2 separate regions of the Homo sapiens genome follow, and region 1 is linked to region 2. The links come from fine-mapping of genetic effects on gene expression. A gene starts in region 2. The other region holds a variant in brackets. All regions are shown on one strand. Distances are from middle to middle.

Region 1 (3,033 bases), 690 kb before region 2:
ACTAGGTGGGCAACAGCGCTGCATGTCAAAGGGTTTACTGTGATTTCACAAAGCTCCATAGAAAGCCTCCAAATGAAGACTGGCAGGCTGGGAAAGTCTCTGAAACCATGAAGAAAAGGGACTAGTGGAGGAGCTGCCCTCAAGAGAAAGGCAAGATGTTGAGTTTAGATGGCCTCAGAATATTAAGCACCTAACCTGCTCTGTCATTTAGGTTAATTCATGGAGCCCTATATATATATATATATATATATATATATATATATATATATATACAGATGAATCACTGGCATGAGATCAGCTAAAATATTCATTGTAGTTGCTTTTAGGTGATTGTAGATTTCTTCATTGTTTCACCTTTTCCGTATATTTTTAAATGACAGCAAAATTTTATAATAAAGTTTTTATAATAAATTTATTTTTATAATAAAGAAAAATAAACAGAAGGCAAATTGATATCCTCACATAATGTGGGAGCTACAAAAGGGATCCTAAGTCAAAGTTAGTGCCCTTCCTGTCTAGCCTGGGAGGAAAACGTGACTATTAAATTAATTACTGAATATGATGTGAACTGCAGTTCTGAGGACAAGGACCTGCATTTCTGGTCTACTCCTGTTTTGAAGGTAAACAATTTAATAATTTCAGTGTATAGCTACCTCCAATTATCCAAACCACTGTCTTCATAGGAATATAAGAAAATTAAGGTAGATACCTGAAGCAGCACCAGGAATCAGGACAGATAGAGCTCAGTTTTTTAAAAGAAGATTCTTTCCTGGTCTTCTTCAACTGGGGGCAAAAAAAAAATAAAAACGAAAAAATAAACAATAAAAATAAATAAATAAAATAAAAAGAATGCTACTGTTACACCACATACTTGTTTTAAAGTCTTGCCCTTCTAGTACTGACTACACGCGGCCCCAGGGACCTGTGAAATGGATGCTGCTGCAAGATTTTATTTAAACAACATCTTGATCTTCTGTGCCATGTGACTGGCATTGCGGAGAAGCTGCTCTTTCTAAAGGCTTCAAGGTCACTTAAGCTTGTGCCGGCTCTGCTAAGAGCTCCGATGAGGAATAAACTTTAAGATCTTCTACTAGACAGAATTTTGGAATTCCCAGCAGACCTGTTTCCCTTGGCTTCCAGATCCTCTCAAATGACCTTATCCCTTATCCCACCATGCACACACACACACGCACGCACACACGCACACACATGCACGCACACACACGCAA[GCACA/G]CACACACGCACGCACACACGCATGCACACACACACACTCTATCTTCACTGAAGGCTCCCAAGACATCTTCCTCACAAAACACACAAAACAAAGACAGCTGTCCATTGGTGCTCAAAATAAATGAAGGGTAAACTAAGCCCACAGACACCATGAGGTGAGGTGATATCAGAAAGCCAGAGCAGGACAATGGTCTTGATCCATCCGCTAAATCTTTAGGTACAACCTCCAAGGAAAATGACTTTCAGTCAAGCCAGGCAACTATTGCTACCAACAATAAAACAGAAGATGCTTTTACACTCATGGCCCCAGCATTGTTTCTCACAACTAAAAGAGGCCAAACATCCCAACCAGAAAAAAACACAAACACACACAGGAAGCAACTGTTAACAAATGGAACGTGATAGTGGCAGAGCCCAGAAGAGCTGTTGGTTAACTCAACACGAAGGAGTCCTTGCCTCTCATTCAGGGGTGCACACAGACATGACCCTACCATGCTTTTCCTTCCATCCCAATCTCCATGGTCATCTAGTCCAAGCTGTACGCTCTAGTTTTTCTCAAAGTGGAGCTTATGGGTAACCTCCATCAGAATAGCTGGGGAGCTAATGACACATGGATCCCAGATCAACCAAGGGGATTTTAGAGACATGGGGCCTAGCCCCCAAGTGACTCTGATGCATATTAAGACTTGAGCATCACAGGTCAAGAAGTACACAGATCCCAGTTATCAACATAGCCAGATGGCTGGTGGTAGAAGCAACCCTGTCCCTGTAGCACCTCTCTGTGTCCTGCTCAAAAGCATTAAAACATCATTCTTAGATAAGAACAGAGACAAAGGATATGTCTTTAACACTTTACAGTCTATAAAGTTTTTCCACAGCCACTGTCTCACTGAATCAACCCCTAAGAGACAGAAATGAAAATCGCTGTTTTTACAAACTGAGAAATTACGGGCCTTTGAAGTGTTTCACAGCCTTCACAGCCTGCTGGTAAGAAGCAGAGATCAGGCCTTGGACCTGGGTCTTGTGATTCCAAAGCCCATGATCCTTCGGATTCATCAAAGCTCCACTCCAAGTGCCTACTGGGACTGCCTTGCAGCACTCACCTTCTGTAGGTGAGTAGGTAAGTTGCGGCATGCCATTCTTTCAAAAGAACAGTGCACCTCTGTGACCGAATATGGGCCACAGTATCTCAAGGATATTTTGGTCAAAGCCCTGGGGTGTGGGGCAGAAGATAATGTATTCAATGAAGCTTCTAGAGAAAAGCATAATAAATAAAGAAGCTCCTACCTGTCGCTAGCCTTCCTAAATATCCCAAGAAATCAAGAATTTTCTCCCAATGGATTACAGCTGAGCATCTACTCAGAAGAGAAAATCAAGTCCATTTCAGTTTAGACGGCAGCAGCAAACTCCCCACAGAGAGTACTCCCGGGGTGGCTAGGGGGTGGACAGTGCCATTACTGTATCAATCAGGCCAAGGAGTGGGGCTTGCACTACTGTTTGCTAGAATGGAGCTTGGCTCTAAAACAGGATTCTCAGACACATTTCAGAATAGGACGACTGGAACAATGCAATACTCATCTAAGCAACTGCAAAAGCCAGCTACAACCCAACTCAAGGTGCCATCTATTATGAGAGGTCCCCTTCATCTATGTAAAAAAAAAAAAAAAAAAAAAAGAGGAGCCAAGATGGCCGAATAGGAACAGCTCCAGTCTACAGCTCCCAGCGTGAGTGACATAGAAGACGGTGATTTCTGCATTTCCATCTGAGGTACCGGGTTCATCTCACTAGGGAGTGCCAGAC
Region 2 (2,717 bases):
CGATGCCCAGTCAAGTCTTGGCAGACTTTAAAGCAACACTGAGAACTCCCCCAAAACTCTTTCATTAAATTCCTTTTTTGCTTAAATCCCCAGTTACTGCAAACAGGAAAAATGAATGAGACTAATGAAATAGTATGGTAAATCAACAAGCATCCCACCCACAAAGGGTTTGTGTAGCTTATTTTGGAAATGCACAATTCCGTGTGTCACAAGACTCAACTTCAGCTCTAATGATTCAATTGCCAATTTGTCACCATTTATTCATTCCAAAACTTTTCTGTTCCAAGAACTATCTTGAAAGGAACGAATTGTTTTCAACCACACAGTTTACAAAAACTTCAAGATGCTGCTCTCTCCCGAACAGATGTTTTCGCTGTTATCATTACTTCAGAAAGCAACAGACAAAATTATTATTTGGTAGCTCTAAAATGCAAAGTCATATTCCTGAATTATGAATCAAATGAGAACAAAGTAAGAACAATGGTCAAATTACAGATACGAGTTTTGCACTTACCGTCCCACCTCCACCCACCTAAATCTCAGACTGGCAGGTCTGAAAAGCGGCCATGCACAAAATCATCGCACTCATCTCAAAATAGAACTCTTCTTCCTCGCACACAGAAGCTCAATAATATTTGTTGACTGAATGCAGTTCCTATTATTCATGTATGTTACACATTTCCATAAATTGCTTTCACATAGCACTTTACACCGGCACAGCGCGTCCAGGCTTCCAAAACACCTTCACGTGAATCCCTGCATCTAGAATGGTGGTTAAGAGTTAGACATGCCTGCACAGCCATTAAATGGCACAGCACACGGGGGACCCGTGTCTGATGCTCCCACAGCACATTAATTGCCCCTCTATTTCAGCCCTTCTGGTACACTGTAATTCTCTCTCTCACTTGATCAGCTCTTTGAGGAGGTCCCGTTCCTCTTCGTATCCCCAGGCCACACACAACCCAGACCACAGAGGTGCACCGTAGACATCAAGATTCTTCCACCTGCTGCAAGCCTGATGCTTTACCGGCGGGGCCTCTGCAGGGGAGCCTGATTTATACTCATCCCAGCTCCCACCCAGCCCCACGCCCGCCACGTGTGATTTCCACAGCCGCACCAAGGAAGACTGTCCAGCACACAGACTTTTCGTCTCCCAGCAAAATTATCCCCGGCACAACGCTTCCCCCTCAAGTCTGCCCAATGGCTTTCCCATTTCCACCGCAGCCCAGGTTGGGGGGCAGTGGCTGAGCCTGGGCCCCCTCCCAGCCCCGCTGCGGCAACCTAGGGGGGTGTCCGGGCGGGGCCTGTCAGCAGCGACCCGCCCCCGGGCACACGCGCGTCAGGGGCAGCACCGCCAAGCTGCCTGTGCAGCCCCATCCAGCAGGAGTCCCGCGGCTGCCGGCCGCCCGACGCCCCCCCCTCCCCAGCACCCCACACAGCTCGCGACTCAGGTAGGCGAGGGCGCTCCTTACGCACCCGAGAAGGCAGCGGTCGCAGACGACGCCACGACTCCCCTTGCACACCGTGTACGCCAAGGGATCCGAGCGGAAGAGTAGCTCTCCGGGGCGCAGCGGGGTCACGGCGCGCAGCCCGTTTCCCCTCTTGGCGGTTGCGAACTTTTCCACCTTCAGCGGCTCCATCCTCCCGCAGCTCCGGCACCTCAGACGGCTACCCGCGTCCAGCAGCGGGCGTCTCACGGGCTGCCGGGACCCGCGCGCCTGCGCCCTGCGCGCACACGTACGCCCGAGGGGCGGGGCGGGCGCGGTGGGGCAAGAGCATGCGCAGATGGAGTCTGGAGGGACGGCTGGAGTGGAGTGTGTGGGACCTGAAGGTGGTCGTAAGGCTCCGCGTGCGGCTCGTGCCCATGGCGACTGCGCAGAAGACAGGCGGGGTTTTTTTTCTCCCTCTAACATTGTATTACGATCATTTTAACGCATACGGAACAGTTGAAAACAGTGCAGTGAACACCTATATACCTCCGCCTAAATCAGACAACCTAGCACTTTGCCATTTCTGCTCGTCACTCTCTCCCCACCTGTAGCTATGTATACACGTATTGTCGTTAAACTATTTCAAAGTTGCAGGCATCATGACATCACAACTAGTACTTTGCACTGTAACTTTTTTTTGTTTTAGGACGGAGTCTTGCTCTGTCGCCCAGGCTGGAGTGCAGTGGCGAGATCTCGGCTCACTGCAACCTCTGACCTCCGGGTTCAAGCGATTCTCCTGCCTCAGCCTCCATAGTAGCTGGGACTACAGGCATGTGCAATCCTCCCGCCTGGGCCTCCTGACTAGATGGGACTATAGGCTCACGCCACCATGCCTGGCTAATGCTTTTTACTTTCCTCCAGAGACAGTCTACCTATGTCGCCCAGGCTAGTCGCAAACTCCTGGCCTCAAGTGAACCTGAACCTCCTGCCTCGACCTCTCGAATTGCTGGAATTACAGGTGTGAGCCACCACACCCAGCTTAATTTTCTTTTTTGTTTTTGGGGTTTGTTTTGTTTTGTTTTGTTTTTTGAGACGGAGTCTCATTCTCGCCCAGGCTGGAATGCAGTGGTACGATATTGGCTCACTGCAACCTCTGCCTCCCGGGTTCAAGCGATTCTCCTGCCTCAGCCTCTTGAGTAGCTGGGACTACAGGCGCCTGCCACCACGCCCGGCTAATTTTTGTATTTTTAGTAGAGACGAGGTTTCACCGTGTTAGCCAGGATGGTC

What was found. PIP is the estimated chance that this variant, and not a neighbour inherited with it, causes the effect. A credible set is the group of variants that fine-mapping cannot tell apart.
Region 1: its variant is the best candidate, but not a certain one, in a credible set for the expression of SMYD3 in blood mononuclear cells (TOPMed, PIP 0.60).

What each region holds. Positions count from the first base shown.
Region 1 is chr1:245,813,633-245,816,665 of GRCh38, forward strand. All of the region lies in intron 10 of SMYD3 (SET and MYND domain containing 3), which reads right to left. Among named protein-coding and RNA genes, the nearest start is that of SMYD3-AS1, 290 kb to the right of the region's middle. RefSeq lists an enhancer at 2,586-3,033. The variant GCACA/G (reference allele first, on the strand shown) is at 1,230.
Region 2 is chr1:246,505,578-246,508,294 of GRCh38, forward strand. SMYD3 (SET and MYND domain containing 3) reads right to left here and starts at 1,702. Exons shown (of 12, transcript NM_001167740.2): 1 at 1,477-1,702. The coding sequence starts at 1,640. RefSeq lists enhancers at 653-1,153, 1,154-1,654 and silencers at 1,340-1,389, 1,660-1,839, 2,329-2,561.